Homo sapiens: one gene and its partners. The protein of the gene in region 3 interacts with the protein of the main gene of each other region in a pairwise test. Each region holds a gene or a part of one and is shown on either strand. Other genes may lie near its edges.

Region 1 (7,649 bases), on a different chromosome or scaffold from region 3:
TCTATGGCAAACCATATAGGTTTTGTGTTTTTAAGTACACAAATGATTTATGCTATCATTCTTGTCATTAAAAAAATGAAAAAATGTCGAGTCATAGAGGATTAAAAAATACTAAAAAATAGCAAAGCTCTGAGAGACTGGTGCCGCATTTCTCTCCCTCTCTAAGAAGTTTAGGGGATGCCACACGCTGTTCTGGGTATTCCCACATGTAAAGATGCAGACGATGTAGAGGATTGTCTAGTGGGGGCTGTAAACATGATTGGTATCCTGTCTGCTTAGCACATCCATCTGTAGCTTGGTTTTCTCCCCCTACATCATGTCTCAAGGATCATGCCGGTCCCTACAAACCTCCCTCTTTGTTGTCAACCCTGCAGTGTGTCCCATAGGAGGGATGGACAGGCTTTATTCAGCCATTCCTCTACTGGCGGAGTGCTCAAGCAATATAGTAGCTAAAGCATCCTTGGGCATGCTTCTTTGAGCATGTGAGCAATAATTTCTCTAGGGTAGCTACTGAGGACAATTGATGGGCCAAAGGATGTGTTGTGTTTTGTTTTTTTTTTGTTTGTTTCTTTTTTTGTTTTTTGTTTTTTTTTTTTTTGAGACAGAGCCTCGCTCTGTCACCCTGGCTGGAGTGCAGTGGCTCGTACTCGGCTCACTGCAACCTCCGCCTTCTGGGTTCAAGCGATTCTCCTGCCTCAGTCTCCTGAGTAGCTGGGATTACAGGTGCGCCCCACCATGCCTGGCTAATTTTTGTATTTTTAGTAGAGACAGGGTTTCACCATGTTGGTCAGGCTGGTCTCAAACTCCTGACCTCATGATCCGCCACCTCGGCCTCCCAAAGTGCTGGGATTACAGGCATGAGCCACCGCGCCCAGCTGCCAGGACATGCATTTTTAAATTTAGATAACTACTATCTCACCCTCCAAAAACACTATATGGATTTATCTTCCCATCTGTCATGTATGAAAGTGCCCATTTCCCCATGTCTCCCCCAACACTGGGTATTATTTATTTTTTATTTTATTTTATTTTTTTTTTAGACAGAGTCTCGCAGTCGCCCAGGCTAGAGTGCAGTGGCATGATCTCGGCTCACTGCAGGCTCCGCCCCCCGGGGTTCATGCCATTCTCCTGCCTCAGCCTCCTGCGTAGCTGGGACTACAGGTGCCCGCCACCTCGCCTGGCTAATTTTTTGTATTTTTAGTAGAGACGGAGTTTCACCGTGTTAGCCAGGATGGTCTCGATCTCCTAACCTCGTGATCTGCCCGCCTCGGCCTCCCAAAGTGCTGGGATTACAGGCGTGAGCCACCACTCTCGGCCAAGATATGCTTTTCTAACAGGCATATTACATTACCAGAAAATAGCTTCTGGGCAGTTTTAGGTAGTGTGTGCCAGTGCCAGTGGTCCCCAACTTTTTCCCCCACTGTGGTGGGCAGGAAGTCCTGTGCCCCTTCCCAGTGCCCCTCAGCTGGTACCTGCTGCTGTTCCTAGGTTTTGGGAACTCGGCACCTTCAAAGGAGGCAAGCACAGAGGCAGGGCGGGCAGCGCTGCTGGAGCGGGCGCTGCGGGACCTGGAGGTACAGAATGCCGTGTTGGTGAGCCCCTCGCTGAGTGGCCACTATGCCCTGCCCTTCCTGATGCGAGGCCACCACCAGCTACATGGATTTGTGCCCATCGCACCCACCTCCACCCAGAACTACACCCAGGAGCAATTCTGGGCTGTGAAGGTACTGGGAGAAGGATCTCAAAGGTCCTGGCACCCTGTCTGTGGCTTGGGGGGGTTCAGGACTCAAGTCTTACTTGGAGGGACATGGCCTTATCCCTGACCTTGGATGGAAGAGTTGGATGGTGTTGGGGAAGGCTTCCTAGGAAGTGGCTTGGGGGTCAGAAACTCATCAGGCCCCAAGATCACAGCCCCCTGCCTTGCCCTGCAGACTCCAACCCTTATCCTGTATGGAGAGCTGGACCACATCCTGGCTCGAGAGTCACTGCGGCAGCTCCGCCACCTGCCCAACCACTCTGTGGTGAAGCTACGCAATGCAGGCCATGCCTGTTACCTCCACAAGCCGCAAGACTTCCACCTTGTCCTGCTTGCCTTCCTTGACCATCTACCTTGAACTAACCCACTCCCAGCTCCCAGCCTGGCATGAGCTTGGACAGTCTGGACCGCCACCCTCCCTGAACCAGGGAGACAGCCTCTGGGATTGGAGGCCAGAGGCCAGGGTCAGACCCAGCCAGGACTCCTCATTTCATCTCACAGACACAATAAAAAAGCATATTTGTCCTGCCTGGGAAGTGACAGGTTCCGTTTCCTGGTGTGCTGTGGGAAAGACGGGAGTGGGAGGCAAGTCTGGGACTACTTTGGGCCTGGGAGCTGGAGGGGATGTCCAGCAGTCTGAGAAGGCTAAGAATGCGCCACTTCCTAAGTGCCTGGCCTCACCACTCTGTGCCTGAGTTTCCTTATCTGTAAAACGGGTATGATGGCAACACCTAGGTTGGAGGGTGGTTATAGGACTGAATGAGTCTGGATAACTGAGTACTTGGCCACATAAGGCTGGGGAATTGCTGGTGGGAGGCGGGGTGTATTACTGCTGCTGCATGACCACAGGGATTGGTGGGAAATCCAGGGTCTGGACAGCCAAGCCAAGGAAGTCAGGAACCTAGAGGGTATGGGGAACGCGATTTAACAATTAGCCAGCATTGGCCGGGCGCAGTGGCTCACACCTGTAATCCCAGCACTTTGGGAGGCCGAGGCAGGCGGATCACGAGGTCAGGAGATCGAGACCATCCTGACTAACACGGTGAAAACCCGTCTCTACTAAAAATACAAAAAATTAGCCGAGCGTGGTGGCGGGTGACTTTAGTCCCAGCTACTCAGTAGGCTGAGGCAGGAGAATGGTGTGAACCCGGGAGGCGGAGCTTGCAGTGAGCCAAGACCGAGATCACACCACTGCACTCCACCCTGGGTGACAAAGCGAGTGAGACTCCGTCTCAAAAAAAAAAAAAAAAAAAAAAAAAAAAAAAAAAAAAAAAACCAGCATTAGCTGGGCACTGTGGCTCACATCTGTAATCCCAGCACCTTGGGAGGCCAAGGCGGGTGGATCACCTGAGGTCAGGAGTTCAAGACCACCCTGGCCAACATGACAAACCCTGTCTCTACTAAAAATACAAAAATTAGCCCAGCGTGGTGGCACGCACCTGTAATCCCAGCTACTCTGGAGGCTGAGGCAGGAGAATCACTTGAACCCAGGAGGCGGAGTTTTCAGCGAGCCGAGAAGGAGCCACTGCACTCCAGCCTGGGCAGCAGAGTGAGACTCCATCTCAAAAAAATAAATAGCTAAATAATTAGCCAGCATTGTTATGAGTTAAAGTCTATTTGCCCGCATGAATAAATAGGTAAATAATTAGCCAGCATTGTTGTGAGTTAAAATCTATTTGCCCGCATGACAGAGTGAGACTCTGTATCAAAAAAATAACTAAATAAAGAATTATCCAGCATTGTTATGAGTTAAAGTCCATTTGCCCCCATGTTATGTGTGAGCAGCCAAGACTTAAACCTCAGGAAAGGTGGGACAGAACCCTTCCCACAGCGTGCCTCCTTGGCCTAGAGATTGAAGTCTTTGTCCCTCACCCTTCCCCAAGCTGACTCAGCCCCTGGAGCAGAGGGCAGACCTGGCTGGGAGTACAAAGGGCAGCTGGGGCACAAGTGGGCAACTGCAGCTGTGGCCTGCAGGGGGCCAGTGGTACACCTGTGCCTGTTTAGCCTCCCCCTCTGGTGGCTGCAGAAGAGCCAGTTTCCTCACACTGTCCATCCAGGGTCACAATTACATCCATTCACAGTGACTTCATCACACCCACCCACCATCTCACACTGTCACATACACAATCATATCCACTGATAGACTGCACACGCAGTGGCACGCTTAAACCGTCACACGTGCTCTTGTCCATGCATTCATTCCCATTCTAGGCACTGTCCGGGCTCGGCACGGCCCCGGGCAGAACCTTGCAGGAAGTGGAGCTCACAGCCTCCTGGAGTTCAGTGTGGGCAGACAGACATTGGCCAATAACTTCAGTACAAGTGGAGCTGAGGCGTCAGGGAGGACCTCCCCGAGGGGCTGAGGCCTGCAGTGGGGAGCCGTTGGAGACTTGCCGAGGAGGGCGAGGGCGCAGGCCCAGGGCTTTGCAGCTCTGCATCTTGAGAGCCTCGGGGCGGCCCCCTTTCCTCCCGCCCTATCCGGGGGCTGAAGGAGGAGGCGCCCTTAGGGGACGGGACCGTCCTGAGCTCCCGGCGCATACCTGGGGGCAGGAGTGGCAGGCGTGTCGTGTGGGGCGGGGCGAGCCTGTCAGAGCAGGGCCAGCCCGGAGCTCGCAACTCGCGGGGCGGCGCTGGCCGCGGCGGCCGCTGCCCGGGGACGGGATCCGGATCTAATCCTCCAGTAATCTCGCTGAGGCCCGAACCAGAGGCGGGCGGGGACATCCGCGCCGACGCGGCCGCTGGCGCCGGGACGGCCCTCACTGACGGTCTTCGGTCTCCGCCCCGACATCCGGCCTCGGCCACGTGGTGGGCGGACCGGGGCGGTCCTGAGCCTGCGACCTCGCAGGCGACCTCGCTGGACCCTAAGTCCAGGCCACAGTCAGGGAAGGGCGCTGAGAGGCGAGCGTGAGCCCAGCGACAGGAGAGTGAGGTGGGGGCCCTGGGGAGGGATAGAGGGACTGGGGCTCCGTGGCTTGAAAGCCGGGCAACTGGGAGGCGTTGGGGTTTTTCTTGTTTGTTTTTTGTTTTTGTTTTTGCCTTTTTTTTTTTTTAGGAGGGCGGGGGGAGTACAAGTCTGGGTTCAAACCTTGCTCAGCTACTCTATGAGCTGTCCTTGAACCTCTCTGAGCCTCTCAGCTTTCTCCTCTGTAAAGTGGGCATTCTGAGCACAAACTTCATGGGGCTCTTTTGGGGATTAAATAAGGAAATGTGCTGGAAGCAGACAGCCCAGCGCCTGAAACAGAATGGGTGCTCCTTAATGGGGGCTCCGAAACACGGTATCCTACCCCTGTGGGAAGTCCGGGAGCCGCCGTGGGGACAGGCTGTGTGCAGGAGCTCACCATTTCCAGGGTCTTGGAGGGGTAGTTAGCCATTCACTTTGCCCCCAGCTCACCACGCGCAGCGCCATGACCAGCAAGGGTCCCGAGGAGGAGCACCCATCGGTGACGCTCTTCCGCCAGTACCTGCGTATCCGCACTGTCCAGCCCAAGCCTGACTATGGTGAGAAGACGGTGGTTCCAGAGCCTGTGACGGGGCCTAAGGGACGGGGACTGTGCTCTAAACCAGCCTCCAACCCCTGTCACCCAGCTGAGCCCCACTCTGCTGTCCCAAATGGCTCCCCAACCCCTCCAGCCATTCCCCAAGTAAATAGACTGAGGCAGCCCCTCCAGGTTAGGGAGGAACCCTTTCCCCAGAGACTCTGCTGCTGACCAAGGTTACTCCTGGCAGCTGGTTAAAGAAAAACTTCACCTCACTCTCCAGGGCAGGAGTGGTGGGGGAAGCCTGAGGCAGCCACAGGGAAAGGAGAGGCCCTCCAGAAGCCCACTGGGGCTGGACAAAGGCCACAGCCCTTAGGGAGTCAAGCTTGGTGGCTAGGGCCTGGGAGGTGGCTCCTGCCTGTTATCCCAGCACTTCAGGAGGTTGAGGCTGGCAGATTGCTTGGGCCCAGGAGTTCAAGACTAGCTTGAGCAACATGGCAAGACTCTGTCTCTACAGAAAAAATACAAAAATTAGTCAGGAATGGTGGCACACCTGTAGTCCCAGCTACTCCAGAGGTTGAGGTGGGAGGATCGCTTGAGCCTGGGAGGTTGAGGCTGCAGTGAGCCGAGATCGCACCACTTCACTCCTGCCTTGGTGACAGAGTGAGACCCTGTCTCAAAAAAAAAAAAAAAAAAAGGAAAAGAAAAAAAAAAAACTTAGTGGCTGGGAATTGTGTACATGGGTCCAAATTCCTCCTCTGTGATTAATCAGCTGAGAGATGGTGGGTGAATCTCTTCATGTCTCTGTGCCATAGTTTCCCATATTTAAGGAAGATAACACCTTCCTCCAACCCTGTGTCCAGACATCCCCCTGGACTTCCAGAAAGGGTCACTGAGTAGCCAAAAATATCTTCTTTCTTGGGGATGGAAATGCAAGCATCTCTGAGGGATATGGAGTGTGTCGGGGAGGCAGCAGCCCATTTCTGGGTATGCTCCACTCTCCGGGCTGCCTGGGCTGGTGGGAAGCTGTGGGTAGGCAGAAGCAGCCCCAAGACACTCTGTGCCTCCAGGAGCTGCTGTGGCTTTCTTTGAGGAGACAGCCCGCCAGCTGGGCCTGGGCTGTCAGAAAGTAGAGGTGAGCCTGGGGCCCTAAGCGGGGAAGGGAGGTGGGCCTGGGCACTTCCTCACCCTGCTCAGACCACCTACCCTCCTGACCATCTCCAGGTGGCACCTGGCTATGTGGTGACCGTGTTGACCTGGCCAGGCACCAACCCTACACTCTCCTCCATCTTGCTCAACTCCCACACGGATGTGGTGCCTGTCTTCAAGGTGTGTAAGGGGCTGGGGAGGTGGGCAGTGCAGGCCTTGGGGACAGACATGATGCAGACCCCAGGATTCAACCTCAAGTTGCTCATGGTCCTGGCCCCAGTCCTGACACTAACTCTCAACATCCTTATGACATTACACCACTCAAGCAGCCTTCATCCAGCAGCAAGTTCTGGGCCAGAGTGGGGTGGGGACTGGGGGGTGGGAAGCAGGAGACAGCAATGGGGGATGGCAATCAGCTGCCTTCTTCAGCCCCCGTCTTTCCTCTCCCACCACTCCACCTGTCACTCCAACCCTATGGTGGGCTCCTAGGGCAGGGCCACTGTTGACCAGAGTGGATTAATGGCTAAATTTGGGGTTTGGGCCCCTCTTCCCATCCCTGCCCCCAGGAACATTGGAGTCACGACCCCTTTGAGGCCTTCAAGGATTCTGAGGGCTACATCTATGCCAGGGGTGCCCAGGACATGAAGTGCGTCAGCATCCAGTGAGTGTCCTCCATTCCTACTCCTCCACAATGTCCCCACTGGTCCAGTGGATTGAAGCAGGACCTGAGGGGGTGATTGGAGAAACTCAAGGCCAAGGAACACCGTGACCTCTTGGACAGGAACTACTGCCATGACCATTGCATGGATAGGGAGATTCAGACCAGAGAGGGGCAGGGACTTTCTGGAGTCCCTATCAGGGTGTGGCAGGGTAAAGTCCAGGACACAGGACTCCAGCCTGCTGGCCCTGCCTGTGGGGCCAGCCTGCGCATCTGGTGGCTCCCCCAGCACCTGGCTTATGCCCCCTCAGGTACCTGGAAGCTGTGAGGAGGCTGAAGGTGGAGGGCCACCGGTTCCCCAGAACCATCCACATGACCTTTGTGCCTGGTAGGAGTGGCTCAGATACCTTTGGGAAAGGGGAGGGTGGGGCGGGGCAGCCTCCTCATCTCACGTCCCTGCTGCTTTTACAGATGAGGAGGTTGGGGGTCACCAAGGCATGGAGCTGTTCGTGCAGCGGCCTGAGTTCCACGCCCTGAGGGCAGGCTTTGCCCTGGATGAGGGTGAGCAGGTTGGCAAGCCAATGAGCAGCCAGGCAGGGAGTAGGAGGCT
Region 2 (7,019 bases), on a different chromosome or scaffold from region 3:
TGATATAACCTCAGGGCCCTGGGGGGTCCACAGCACAGGCAAGGCAGAAACAAGGACCTTGGGCTCTCTGTGGCCTCTGAACTGTAGAAGAATGGACTTTCCCTCTTTGGCTCTGGTGTTTGCCTCCTGCTTCTGTGAAGGACCGGGAGAAAAAGCCTCCTAAGTCCCAAATTATCCGACTTGCTGACAAGTGCAGAGGGCAGGGTAGACAGGACTATTGCTTTTCTTAGTTTACCTCTAGAGTACCCTCTAGAAAGTGTCTTTGAATGCTCAATCCTTGCAAAGGTTTCCATCCTGGTCATTTAAAGAATAGGAGGACAAGGGTTAGGGATGCCGGTTCTGCTGCCATTTGATTTGACTGGGTCTGAACTGGGCTGGGGCCCAGTGACTCAGTGGGAGGGTGGATAGTTTTGAGGGAGCTGTGAGTCATGGGGTTGAGCTCCATCACAAGAGTTGGGCTCATTTCCCCCATTCTGGGCAGAAGCTCTCCTATCCCACTTCCCTGTATGCTCTGTCTCCTTGAACATGGGCCTGTGAGTAGAAAGAGTGCTGGCAGGCTGATCTCAGAAAGGGAGTTCAGAGGCACAAAGAATAATGCTGGTCCCTGAGATTAAAATGTATCCCTATCTTAGGAACCCGTGGGGCTCCTCTAAAGAAGGCAAAAGAACATCAATTTAAGAGTAACAGAGGGAAAAGTACCACTTCTTAACATGGAAGGAGATAGGGTCCCACCTCAGGCCTTTTTCTTCTCTGGCATGGAGGAAGCTTCCTGGGCTTCACTAGTTCTCCAGCTCTGAAGCTTTGGTTTGGAAGGTGGGGAAAGACAAATGGGAGTGAGGTATTTGGGGTCTGGGGTCTGGTATAGACAGCAGGCAGACTTTGAGGGTTGTCAAACCGTATCTTTAAAGCCCTCGGGCTTCCTATTAACCGTCCTGGAAGGAGGAAGGGCGGGGGAGTAGGGCGGAGGGGTAAGATGTGGAAGGCCTACGCCTTTGAAAGGGTTAAATGGCAGGGCAGGGTGTTGCTTTGGACTCCGGCAGCTGTCGGGTTAAGGAGAAGGGCGGAGCGACCTTGGGTAAGCCTACCCCCTTATGGACCAATAGGCGTGTGCCTCTTGGAGGGGGCGTGCCTCGCACTTGAGGTCGCGGGGAGGCTGGCTTCCTATGGACCAATGAGCATGGTCGCTTTCCAGGGAGGGCGTAGCCTGAGGGGGGCGTGGCGGCCGTGGCCGCCGCGGCGCGGGTGGTGGGGCACTGGGCGGGGCGGGCGGCCCCATCAGCTGGTAGGAAATGGCCTGTGAGTCAGAGGGGCAGTGGAGTCGGCGGCGCGGAGCCGGGGCGGCCCCGGGGAGGGACCGTCGCAGGGAGGGGCGCGGCAGCGGCTGGGGGGCTGCGGGCGCCAGGGCCCGCTAGTGTTGCACACGAAGCTGAACAGCGAAGAGCCTAGCAGAGCAGGGCTCAGCCTGAGCCACCCTTTGTCTGGGTTGGGGGCCCGTGGCAGGGAGGACCGGGGAACCAAGGGGAGGGACCGGGACGGGACGGGACGGAAGGGCCCGGAGCAGCGGCCACCTCCGCGGAGCCAATTTGGGAGCGGGGTGAGTGTGCTAGAGGGAAAGAGCAAATCTCCGAAGCTCCAGTATAGTATGGGGCCTGTCCCAGGCTGTGGGGAGGAGAGGAGTGAGAAGGGACCTGGGAGGCTGGGCAGGGGGTAAGGGATCGTCCAGAAGAAGGAGTCCAGGAGTCAGGTGAGTCTGCCTGGCTTAGTTTAGAGAGTCTGCTAAGGTCTGCTCTCTCCCCTCTGAAGATAGAGGGCTCTAGGCTGGGGGCCGAGGGGTTGGTAAGAGAGAAGAAGTCGACCTTCCTACCCACAGTGGTGGTCCGTGGGAACAGCCCCCCTAGCTTGTGTGGATGTATGTAGGGACAAAATAGAGAGCAGCTGGCAGCAGTTCTCTTTGCATAGGATGAGGGTGGAAAGCACATGGATAGGAATTCATCCTGTCACTCTCCTTGATCATGGTAGAAATGGAAATCTTTAATACTGAAGGGAAGGGGAGAATGAGCCTTGAAGCTGATACCTATACCAATACCCACCTCACCCACCTCCCAGGCCTCAAAAGTGTCTAAAGGTACAGACGTATTCTGGGACTTGTTGTTTTTGCTGGCCTTGCTCCCTCAGCATGTTGGGAGCTGTAGTCCTTGCCAGCCACAGCCTGGCACAGCTGTTTGATGCCAGCTGCTGCCCACCCCCTGAACGAAGAGTGAGGCTTGGCCTACTCTGCCCTGCCCCCCTCCCCTGCAGTCCTGCCCCATGAGTCAGCTTGAAGCCATGGTCTAGAGCCAGACTGGCTGGGTGGCAGGGGAGTGAATATAGAGCGTCTTGTTGACAGGGTGGGAACTGAGAGGGCTCTGGGGTTAATAAGCAGATGCCAGGTATGCTGGGGTCAAGTAGGGCATCATGTCATCCCCTGGCTTCCCCAGGGCAAGGGGTCAAGAGGGCAACTGGGATGACCTGGAAGTGGTGGTGCTAGGGAAAAGGCCCCTCCTGAATCTGTATGGCTTGGGTGGAGGAAAGAAGGGTAGAAATTAGTGCAGGTTGTACCTTCTGACAAGGTTGGTTGCAGGTAGGATAGTGCAGGTTGCGATTGGTGTTCTGCCCTTTCCAGCCATCCCGCCCACCACAGGGAACCAGGATTTTCTTAGGGATCCCAATTCTTAGGAGAATTTGGTGAAATGGGATAGTGGGGTACAATGATGGGAACTTGGTGTAGGAGAGCTTTTCAGTCCCTGGGTACAAATCTCTCCTTTCTGCCTGCTCCCCACCCCCACCTCTGTTCCTGATTTTCCCTTGTACAATTAATCTCTCTGCTTCTCTCATCTGGGAAATTTTTCTCTCCACTCTCAGGACTGCTGCTCAGATGTCTGGGACTTGCATTCTACTTTTTTTGAGCCCTGCTGTGTGCTTACCCCTGTACTTGGGGTTGGATGGAGGGGTGGGACACAGATCTGTCCTCAGGAACTCTATGGTCGGTCTAGAAGATGCCTTACCCACAGGAGTGAGCAGAACTGTTAGTGAGCTTACAGGAAGTAGTAACACTGCCATAGGTGAGGTCTCAGAGAAGGGAGAGATGCTTATGGTCTGGGGTGGACAGAGCAGACTTTCTGGAGGAGATGGCATTTGACCTATCCAAGGAGGAAAAGTCTTGGGTAGGCATTCAAAGGGCACTTCTTGAAGGGGAAAGAGCACCGTGAATGTCAGACAGCAAAAGAGAAGGCTGACCCTGGGGGCAGCTGGCTTTCAACTTGACATTCCCCTCACCCTAGTATGGGCTGGAATAGTTAGTGAAGACCATCTTATGCACCCGTGGTTTGGGGTTTTGGTGTTGGGTGTGTGAGCACTGGGGGAGGGGCGTGGAGAGGTACTCCCTAGTTGCTTCCAGCTGACTGACTGCTGCGGCCTTATCTCTAGTTTGCAGGGCCTTGCGGGAGGGCCCTGGAAAGTGCCTTCTGGCAGTGACCCCTTCCCCTTCCCCTTCTTGTTTTTGGTCGGATTTGTTGCCTCTTGTTAAAGAGACAGGCTGCTGGAGGCAATTTGGAGTTCAGGGCTGAAAGGCCAGCTCTGAGCTGACTTGAAATTTGTACCTCTGAGGACCGCTGATGGGGTATAACTGTGTGGGAGACCTCTGCCCTTAGTGCCCTAGGATGGCACTTGTCCCTTTGGAGATAGACATATAAGAAGGAGTTGTGCAATTTGGTGGCTTTGAGTAAGAAAGCTGAATTCTTCCCCTGGCCGCCTCTCAGCTGACACGGTCTCTTGGATCTTGGGGGTCTCTCATCCCTTCCTCCATGTAGGGCAGGAGTCCTCAAATGGTGGCCCTGACAAGTAGTTATTCTACCTCAACTCACTTGTCACATCCTTATTATACTGAGCCAAGACCTGCCTCTTTGACTCCTTAGGTAGCCCAACTCTGCCATCTGTGCCCTGGACCCCAAGCCTACCCTTTCTGTTCCTGAAGAGCCTCTCACATGGGAGAAGGATGTCCTGGAGTGTACTATTAGCCTATAATTGGTGACAGGCCTTACCGCTGGCTCCAGTGATCCTGGCTTACGTCTGTTCTTCTCTCCTCAGGGTCCTGCTGAGCTCAGGAGCTGCACGGAATGGTGGCAGTCACCTTGCCAGTGCAGCAGGCATGGATCAGACTGCAAGCTAGGGGCACGAGGCATCAGTTGGGAAGAGGGGACGCACAGCTAGGCTTGAGGCCTCTTCATCGGGGTAAGTACCAGGGAGAAGAGGGGGAAGTGTGTCCAGTAAGAAGCCTGAGCTAAACCTGTCACCCTCTCAGGAGTTCTGAGAGTGGTCTCTATATTCCATTAGTCCATCCAGGGATTTGTACACATTCATCCTTGGGAACCCATCAAAGTCACCCCTTTAGGCAAGGAGAGGGTCTGAAACTCAGCTGGAAGGAAGAAGACTCATTGATTCCCCTGACCACCTTTTCTTCTCTTCTCTTACACAGATGTCCCCAGGCCCCCCAGCCCAGGCCCAGCATAAAGGCCGTGTTGGGGGGCCCCCCTGACCCAAGGGGGGCTTCATGCGCCACGTGCAGGCGGAGCCGTCTCCATCCTCAGAGCCGGAGGCTGGCCCTTCACAGCCTCCAGTCAGGCAGGGGGCCCTCCAGGGTGGCCTGCTCATGGGCTACAGCCCAGCAGGGGGGGCGACATCCCCCGGGGTCTACCAGGTATCCATCTTTTCCCCTCCGGCTGGTACCTCTGAGCCTCATAGGGCCCTGAAACGACAAGCCCCATCCACTGAGGGTCCCCGGGAGCTGAAGAGAGGCCCTGGGCTGGGGGCCAGAGAGGGACTACCCCCTGAAGAACCATCTACTGTGGGGCTCTTAGGCCCAGAGGGACCGGGGCTGGGACTAGGTGTGGCCAGCCAGCATTTCTCCCACCGTGGCCTCTGTGTTGTGGAACAGAGAAGTAGTGTCACCTCATCTTGGACTTCGGGGGCCTGGAGTCCCCCCTGCCCCCCATCAAATGCTTCCTGCAATACTTTGCACACCAGAGACTGGGCCTCCCCAGATCCAGGGGGACAGGGGTCCCTGGGGGAGTCCCCAGGGCCAGCCCCTCCAGGCCAGCTGCACACACTTGACACTGATTTGCACAGTCTTGCACAAATAGGGGGTAAGAGCCCAGTGGCTGGGGTGGGCAATGGGGGTAGCCTCTGGCCTAGGGAGTCCCCTGGCACTGCCAATGGGCACAGTCCCGAGCACACACCCCCTGGCCCTGGACCCCCAGGCCCCTGCCCCACCAAGCGAAGGCTGCTTCCTGCTGGAGAAGCCCCAGATGTCAGCTCTGAGGAAGAGGGGCCAGCCCCTCGGAGGCGCCGGGGATCCCTGGGCCACCCTACTGCTGCCAACAGTTCTGATGCCAAAGCCACACCCTTCTGGAGCCACCTGCTGCCTGGGCCCAAAGAGCCTGTTTTGGTAAGCCAATAAAGGACCTCATTTACTCTTTTTTTACTTTTTTTTTTTTTTTTTTTTTTTTGAGATGGGATCTCACTCCATCACTGCTGGAGTGCAGTGGCACAATCTCAGCTGACTGCAACCTCCTCCTCCCAGGCTCAAGGGATCCTCCAACCTCAGCCTCCCAAGTATCTGGGACCACAGGCACATGACATTGCACCCAGCTAATTTTTGGTATTTTTGGTAGAAATGGGGTTTCGCCATGTTGCCCAAGCTGGTCTCGAACTCCTGAGCTCAAATCATCGACCCACCTTGGCCTTCTAAAGTGTTGTGATTACAGGCGCTCAAGCCACTGCGCCTGTCCTTCATGTACTCTTAAGTGGATATTTGTGTGGGTAAAGGTGGAGGCCTGGGGGGCAGGGTGTTCCTTTGAGAGTTTGTGATGAGCTTCTGCCCCAAAACATACATGGCCTTCACCCTGTGTCTTTTCCCAATCATTTCTCTCCGTAGGACCCAACAGACTGCGGTCCCATGGGGCGGAGGCTGAAAGGAGCCCGTCGCCTGAAGCTGTAAGTGACCAGCTTTTTCCTCTACCCTGTCCCTGAGAATGGGGGCAGAAGTCTGTACTCTTTCCAGCATCCGAGTAGGGGACCCCAGGGCAGAAGCCCTACATAGTGGCAGAGGGTGGAGTCCAAGGGCATAAGCAGGAATCCCAGAATACCTCAAGCCAACCCCCTGTGTTTCCCTTCCTCTACCAGGAGCCCCCTTCGAAGCCTCCGGAAGGGGCCAGGCCTGCTGAGCCCCCCCAGTGCCTCCCCTGTTCCTACCCCTGCTGTCAGCCGTACCCTGCTGGGCAACTTTGAGGTAGCTCCCGTTGGGGTTTGTGATTGCCGGGGTCCTGGGAGAGGTGGGATGGTGGAATGTGGCTTGGATGGATAAGGAAAAGAATTGGCATCTCTCTCTTCATGTGTTTTCCCTACCCTAATCCCAGGAATCATTGCTGCGAGGACGTTTTGCACCATCTGGCCACATTGAGGGCTTCACAGCAGAAATTGGAGCTAGTGGGTCATACTGCCCCCAGCACGTCACGCTGCCTGTCACTGTCACATTCTTTGATGTTTCTGAGCAAAATGCCCCGGCTCCCTTCCTGGTATGCCTTGACTCCAACCCCAAAGTCAGCTCATCAAGAGGATGAGGATTTGGGGGCGGGGCCAGGGGGCAAGAGGTATTTCTTACTTATTCCTCACCTAGAAGTGAGTCAGGGCCAGGTGAGGAGAACTCTACTGTAGGGCAGGGGCAGGTTCAGGGTGAGAGCTTGTGGAGAGGGACATGTGTTTAGGGCCCAGGGTTTTCCTAGTCCCCACCTTGACTGATGGCTCCCTGGCCTTCCAGGGCATCGTGGATCTGAACCCCTTGGGGAGGAAGGGTTACAGCGTGCCCAAGGTGGGCACCGTCCAAGTGGTGAGTTTGCCCTGAGGGAGTGGGAGTGGGGAGAGAGGAAAGCAGCCCTCAGGCCCTACCAACCTTGACTGTCCTGTCCCTAGACCTTATTTAACCC
Region 3 (7,019 bases):
AGACCTTCTTAACTGTGGGTGTCCCCTCGACCTTGTACTAGTCACCTTGTTTCTCTGCTTCTTCGTGCTTAGCCTTGGCTGTGTACTCCTCCTTGTTGGCCCTGTCTCCCTTGCCCAGGTTGCAGATGTCATGGGGCAGCTTGTTCATCTGAGTGTCCCCAGTGCTTGGCACCCAGAAGCCATAAGATGAGCCCCTGTGGGATGAGTAAATGAATCACCTTGGGAGGGTCAGCCGCAGGCTTCTGTGGGTGGGTGGGTGGTGCACTGGGCCCCAGAGTACAAAGATGCACATGACCCGCTTCCGGCTTCCTAAGCCCACCTCTGCCTCTGGCTCTGTGGGGCGTCTCCTCCTTTGCCACTCAGCCCCAGAGGTGCTTCTGCTTCCCTGCAGGCTTGCCCTGGAGCCTGGCGCTAGGGCCCTGGGGCTCCCTTGCTCCTGCGTGCCCCCTGCGCCTGCCTTCCTGCTGCCTGGCCTTTCTCCCATCTGCTTTCTTCCTGAGTGGCCCCTGGCCAGGGGACTCGGGTGCATACATGGTTTCCAAACGCCTTTCCTCCAGCCCTCCCGACTAGTGTCTTAAATCTCAAGCTGGCCTCTCTGGCTCCGCTGTTTTTTTTTTTTTTTTTTTTTTAATTTAATTTAACTTTAAATTCCGGGATACATGTGCAGGATGTGCAGGTTTGTTACATAAGTAAACCTGTGCCATGGTGACTTGCTGCACTTGTCAACCCATCACCTAGTTGTTCAGCCCCCCGTGCATTAGCTATTTATTGTATACACCAGCTGAGATGCCAGGGCTTGGCTGGCTCTCAGCTGGAGGGCTCACTCTCTGGACCTTGTGTCCGTCCCTGCTGGCCCTCAGTTCTCTGGATCAGGGTTGAAAGGCTGAAATTCTTTGGGTGTTAGCTTAGGATGCCTCTGATCCATCCTAACCCGACATTCCCTTGATCTCTCCTGATCTGTGAGCATCCTGGCCCTTCTTTTCTTTTCAGTTTTAATTTTTGCGCTGGCTCCAACCCCTTTTCATTCCTGACTCTGGAAGTGACACTTGTTTTTCTCTTGGGGTTTGGGAAACTTTGTGGTTGTTCTTTCTAGGAGGCTGCTCTTTGAGTCATTTCTTTTCCATATTGTTTCTCCTACTGTAGCAGGGCCATGGCCAGGGATAGAGGCTGTAGCTCCCACTGAGACCTCGGGGTCTGGTGGAACCCGGTCTTGTGTGGGTGCTGTCGGCCTCTCCTGCTTTCCCACCTGCCTCACGGTTCACTTGTGTGCCTCAAAGGCACACATGTCCTAGCACTCCAAAGCCCACCAGGGTGGGCTCCCAGGGGTGAGGTCGAGGTAGACCGGGAACCCAAGAGAGCTGGTGGGCCTTTCTTCTACCCCTCTCCCCTCACAGTCTCAGAGCAGCCCCTTCATGGGAGATGGGAAGTGAGGGACAAGGTCTCAGTGTCAGAGCCGTCCTTGTTTGCCCTTCCCCGTGCCTCTTATGAAGCTCAGGCCTTTTGGCAGTCAGAGGCCTCAATGGTGCCTGTGTCCACAGGGCTGGCTGTCCTCACCGTGAAGTCTAGATCTCCCTGCTAACTTACACTGTGCTCAAAACACACACACACACACACACACACACACACACACACACACTGGCTGTCCTCACTGTCAACTCTAGATCTCCCTGCTAACTTACACTGTGCTCAAAAAACACACGCACGCACGCACGCATGCACGCACATACACACACACACACACACCCATAGGCTGGCCATGGTGGGAGGCCAAGGTGGGAGGATCGCCTGAGCCCAGGAGCTCGAGGCTGCAGTGGGCTATGATTGCATCACTGTACTCTAGCCTGGGCCACAGAATGAGACCTTGTCTAAAAAAAAATTAACAGAAAACACCCCATACGTGGAAGTGTGGTATTCACATAATATGATGTTCACTTAAATTTGAATCCTTTGGTTTAAGTTTAGATTACTCTTAATTATCTTTTTAAATGACAAGCTCGTTGAAAGAATAAAAAATCAAAGACGGCTTCTATTTAAAGGAGAATAGGAGAATGCTTAGGGGACATGTGTTCTAATTTTCTCTTCATTAAAAAGTCATTTAAGGTTATAATTAAAAAGAACATCTTTTAATTAATTTTTATATTTATTAAAAAAAAGTCTTCTATTGAAAGGTACAGTTCTTAGTTCTTCCCGTGTTAACTCACTCGGTTCTCTATAACCCCAAGAAGTAAGTGCTGTTATTGTCCCCATCTAAACTGTTGAGGAAACTGAGGCATGGGATTAAATGACTTCTTCAAGGGCAGAGTGGCTGGCAAATGGGAGACCCAGAAAACCTTGGCAGTTGGGCTTCAGAATCTTCACGACCAAATTACTCTCTCTGCTTCAGCTGGTTCCGGATTCTTCCCCAGGGATGGTTGTGTCCTGCAGGGGACGGCTGGCAATGTCTGGAGATGCTTTCTGTTGCCACAGCTATGGGACTGGGGTATTGGCATCTGATGGGCAGAGGCCAGTGGTGCCCAAGGCAGCCCCGCAACAAAGAATGATGCAGGCCGGGTGCAGTGGTTCACGCCTGTAATCCCAGCACTTTGGGAGGCCGAGGCAGGTGGATCAGTTGAGGTCAGGAGTTCGAGACCTGCCTGGCCAACATGGTGAAACCCCATCTCTACTAAAAATACAAAAATTATCCCGGCATGGTGGCAGGTGCCTGTAATCCTAGCTACTCAGGCTGAGGCGGGAGAATTGCTTGAACCTGGGAGGCAGAGGTTGCAGTGAGCTGAGATTGCACCACTGTACTGCAGCCTGGGTGACAGAGTGAGACTCTGTCTCAAAAAAAAAAAAAAGAATGATCCAGCCCCAAGTGCCACCAGCAGTGAGAATAAGAAACCCTGATTCAGGCATGTTCTGTGAAAGTCAAGAACGTAGGTTGACAGAGTTTGTTTTGTTTTTTAAATGTCTTTCTGAATAAATAAAAACTGTTCTGAGTGAGTTTTGTAGTTCCTTTGGAAAGTATTCATTCTGTTTGTTTACATTTGTGCGCCTGCTGTGGGCCAGGCATGAGGCTACATGTCTGAGGGCCCAGCTTCACCTTCTAAGGGCTGGGAGGCTCTTTCTATGCCAGCCTGCCTGCCAACAAGGCTCAGCTTCCACTGTTAAGGGTCATTTTGTGGATTTTTTTATTTTTTATTTTTAGGTTGAGTCTTGCTTTTTCGCCCAGGCTGGACTGCAGTGGCGTGATTTTGGCTCACTGCAACCTCCACCTCCCAGGTTCAGGAAATTCTCATGCCTCAGCCACTCAAGTAGCTGGGATTACAGGCATGTGCCACCATGTCTGTCTAATTTTTGTATTTTTAGTAGAGATGGGGTTTTGCCATGTTGCCTAGGCTGGTCTCGATCTCCTGGGCTCTAGCGATCCTCCCGCCTCGGCCTCCCAAAGTGCTGGGATTACAGGCGTGAGCCACCGTACCCCGCCACTCCATGGATTCTTGAGGGCAGAGTTTTTTGGAGCCAGGCTTCAAGCACATTTGATGTGTGCCTATGAGATAAAGACTGCTTTTAATGGCAGGCAAGGAAAATGCAAGTCCATCTCTTAACTTTCTTGAAGAAGCTTGAGACACAGCTCTGCAAGGGGCTGGAAGGTTTCATGTTATTGCCAATGCTTGGTTTATCTGATTGCTGTTGCCATTCATTTTGAAGGAGAAGCAGGAGTTGGTATACCAATATTCCCACTGTGCCAGCAGAGAGCGGGTTATCCTTACTAGAGAGCCAGAGAGTCAGAACGGTTTTTTTTTGTTTTTTTTTTTTTTTTTTGAGATGGAGTTTCACAATTGTTGCCCAGGCTGGAGTGCACGATCTCAGCTCACCGCAGCCTCTGCCTGCCGGGTTGAAGCAATTCTCCTGCCTCAGCTTCCCGAGTAGCTGGGATTACAGGCATGTGCCACCACGCCAGGCTAATTTTGTATTTTTAGTAGAGACAGGGTTTCTCCATGTTGTTCAGGCTGGTCGCGAACTCCTGACCTCAGGTAATCCGCCTGCCTTGCCCTCCTGAAGTACTGGGATTACAGACATGAGCCACCGCGCCCGGCCACAGAGCTGCTTTTTTTTGCAAGTGATATTGGATGGTGGTTGATGTACAAAGTAGGAGTTTGTCCTTGCTACTGATACCGTAGCTGGTACAAGGTTTTAATCGTTCTCCAAGCACTGTCACAGGTGTCATGTGTCTCGCCTTTTCAGCAGCTCTGTGAGGTGGCAGTAGCCCTGAGGAGACTGGCTGGACTCAGCTAGCATGGGCTGCTCAGGTCTTCAGCGTGCTGAGTGAGGCATTCCTGCACTATGACAGAGACCCAGCTGCCAAGACTTTGTCAAACAGACCAGAAGCCAGCAGTTCATGAAAAGACCTTGCTTGCAAGTTGTAGAATTTTTTAGAAAATTCGTGCTCTCTGTATTTATTTTCTGTAAAATAATTGATAGGGAAAGAATGTTCACATCTTATCATCTAGATGTTGCTGATTAAATAATATAACTTTCTGGGTTGGCATGAGTAGGTGAACTTTTAGGAAACGCAGCCTACCCTTCGAATACCTCTTGTAGCACCTGGCTGTTTCCCTTTTGAAATAATTGTATGTTTTCCTGGATACCTTATTACCTGGTGACACGTGTTTCTAGTTATTGACCTATGTTTTTAATTATAACTTTGGGTGGTGGTCTGAAATGAAATGTTAAGTTTGACGCAAAAATAGGACTAGTTTGTGTAACTGATTTGTTCAGAATAACAGCTTACATTTCTCAGAGCTTTTTGTATGCCAAGTGCTATGCGAAACCCTGGATGTACAATATTCTTATAGTAGCCCCTGAGACCAGTGCTAGGATTATTTCCATTTTGCAGATGAGGGGATGGAGATTAAGGAGTGGGGTCACTTGACCAAAGGTGCACAGCGCACAGCTAGATGCCCTATGGGAAGGTCTTACTGCATCTCTTAACTACCTCTTGGGACCAGTTAGGAACCAGTGCTTAATGAAACACTTTGAAGTTACATCTGTGGAAAGAATAAACATTTTAGCTGGGCAAGGTGGCACGGGCTTCTAGTCCCAGCCACTCAAGAGGCTGAAATAGGAGGGTTACTTGAGTCCAGGAGTTCCAGTCCAGCCTGGGCAACATAGTGAGACCCTGATTCTTTAAAAAGAAACACAAATAAATAAACATTTTAAGAGATTATATAAATTAGATATTATGAATTTTGTCCCTACATCGTGGAATAAAACCAAAACAAATACACAGCAAAATGCCTCTAGATTTATTTATTTATTTATTTATTTTTGAGACAGAGTCTTGCTCTGTCGCCAGGCTGGAGTGCAGCGGCGTGATCTCGGCTCACTGCAACTTCTGCTTCCCTGGCTCAAGCGATTCTCCTGCCTCAGCCTCCCGAGTAGCTGGGACTACAGGCACGTGCCACTGTCCCCAGCTAATTTTGTATTTTTGGTAGAGACAGGGTTTCACCATGTTGGCCAGGATGGTCTCCATCTCCTGACCTTGTGATCTGCTCCCCTAGGGCTCCCAAAGTGCTGGGATTACAGGTGTGAGCCACCGCTCCCGACGGCCTCTAGATATTTTGAGTGATTCAGCAAACCTCCTAAAGTTGACCCCGTAGCTGGGGTCACAGTCCTCTTTCTCCTTCTTCCCCCTACTTCCTTCTTATATCTGGCTATCTGGGAGAGAAAAAATTTAATACAATTGATTACTTTTTAGAAGAGTTAATTTTTACTTATTACTGTGGATTTTTTGTTTTTTAACAGTCACACCGAGGAGAAGACTCAGTGGGAACATCCAAAAACTGGAAAAAGAAAACGAGTGGCAGGAGGTTTGTATGTTGTTGTCTAAGGATCTTGGATGGAAGCATTAAGTAGATGAGGAAATGTCACTGGCAGAGAGGTGACAGGTTATTGTGTGTTTAGGGAGGGCTCTCTGGTAGAGAACCAGACTCCCACTCTGAGGAGCTTATGGGATTTGGCAGAAGAAGATGATGAGATCATAGGGTGGAGTGAGGATGATTTCTTACTGGTCTTAAAGTACCAAAATGGCCAGATGTGGTGGCTCATGCCTGTAATCCCAGCACTTCGGGAGGCCGAGGCGGATGGATCACCTGAGGTCAGGAGTTTGAGACTAGCCTGGCCAACATGTTGAAAGCGCATCTCTTCTAAAAATACAAAAATTAGCTGGGCATGGTTGCATGCGCCTGTAATTCCAGCTACTTTGGAGGCTGAGGCACGAGAAGTGCTCAAACCCAGGAGCTGGAGGTTGCAGTGAGCCAAGATCACACCACTGCGCTCCAGCCTCGGTGACAGAGTGAGATGCTGTCTGAAAAATAGCGACAACAACAACAACAAAAACCAGAAAATAATTGAGGCCTTTGATTCACAGTTTATGATGTTTTCCTATCGTTGCAGTGTTTATAAAATTGTTCTTGGCTATACTATGGAATTAAATATATAAGTATTTGGAAATTTCGTAAAGATTACCATGACTTCTAGGTGATTCTGAGATAATGTATGATCCACGGAATAGAAGTATAAGAAAGGGACAGGCACGGTGGCTTGTGCTTGTGATCCCAGCCCTTTGGGAGGCAGAGGTGGGAGGATCACTTGTGCCTGGGAATTCGAGGTGAGCCTAGGCAACATAGTGAGACCCCATCTCAAAAAAAAATATGAGAAGGTTCCTGCCCTTAAGAGGTTTAGGATCCAGCTGAAGAATCAACATGTGCACATGAAAAAAAATGGCCGTGCCCTCTAATGTCATATGAGGTCAGCGTATGAATGACGTTGGGTGCCTGCCCTGCATATACATATGTTCTTTGAGCTCATTCAAGGGAGAATTCCCATGGATTGGCACAACCAGTATGGTTTATAGAGCGATCAGGAATAAAATAGGTTTTCTTCAAAACAAGAGGCAAAAATGTGGAGCCCAGGGTGGGATCAGGGGCCTTCTGCAGCTGTCGCAGTTGGAACATGTGACGAAAGCCAGTTGATGT

Evidence for each region.
Region 1: the proteins of WWOX (region 3) and ACY1 interact in binary tests that used the Homo sapiens proteins (3 or more experiments, as listed by UniProt).
Region 2: the proteins of WWOX (region 3) and ATOSB interact in binary tests that used the Homo sapiens proteins (3 or more experiments, as listed by UniProt).

The regions. Positions count from the first base shown.
Region 1 is NC_000003.12:51,978,905-51,986,553, forward strand, and holds the start of ACY1 (aminoacylase-1), read left to right. Parts: upstream 1-4,630; 5' UTR 4,631-4,685; intron 4,686-5,142; coding exon of another isoform or gene 5,143-5,160; coding exon 5,161-5,254; intron 5,255-6,302; coding exon 6,303-6,367; intron 6,368-6,456; coding exon 6,457-6,561; intron 6,562-6,947; coding exon 6,948-7,042; intron 7,043-7,350; coding exon 7,351-7,427; intron 7,428-7,510; coding exon 7,511-7,600; intron 7,601-7,649. Other genes in the region: protein ABHD14A, read left to right, coding at 1,489-1,724, 1,932-2,114; ABHD14A-ACY1 readthrough (NMD candidate), read left to right, coding at 5,143-5,254, 6,303-6,367, 6,457-6,561, 6,948-7,042, 7,351-7,427, 7,511-7,600. UniProt on the Homo sapiens protein: Catalyzes the hydrolysis of N-acetylated amino acids to acetate and free amino acids.
Region 2 is NC_000009.12:35,105,844-35,112,862, reverse strand, and holds part of ATOSB (atos homolog protein B), read left to right. Parts: intron 1-470; exon of another isoform or gene 471-533; intron 534-1,206; exon of another isoform or gene 1,207-1,296; intron 1,297-1,410; exon of another isoform or gene 1,411-1,594; intron 1,595-1,647; exon of another isoform or gene 1,648-3,203; intron 3,204-3,232; exon of another isoform or gene 3,233-3,658; intron 3,659-4,125; 5' UTR 4,126-4,269; intron 4,270-4,513; 5' UTR 4,514-4,588; coding exon 4,589-5,482; intron 5,483-5,971; coding exon 5,972-6,030; intron 6,031-6,219; coding exon 6,220-6,325; intron 6,326-6,452; coding exon 6,453-6,611; intron 6,612-6,853; coding exon 6,854-6,922; intron 6,923-7,005; coding exon 7,006-7,019. UniProt on the Homo sapiens protein: Transcription regulator that may syncronize transcriptional and translational programs.
Region 3 is NC_000016.10:78,102,636-78,109,654, forward strand, and holds part of WWOX (WW domain-containing oxidoreductase), read left to right. Parts: intron 1-5,787; coding exon 5,788-5,852; intron 5,853-7,019. UniProt on the Homo sapiens protein: Putative oxidoreductase. Acts as a tumor suppressor and plays a role in apoptosis. Required for normal bone development. May function synergistically with p53/TP53 to control genotoxic stress-induced cell death.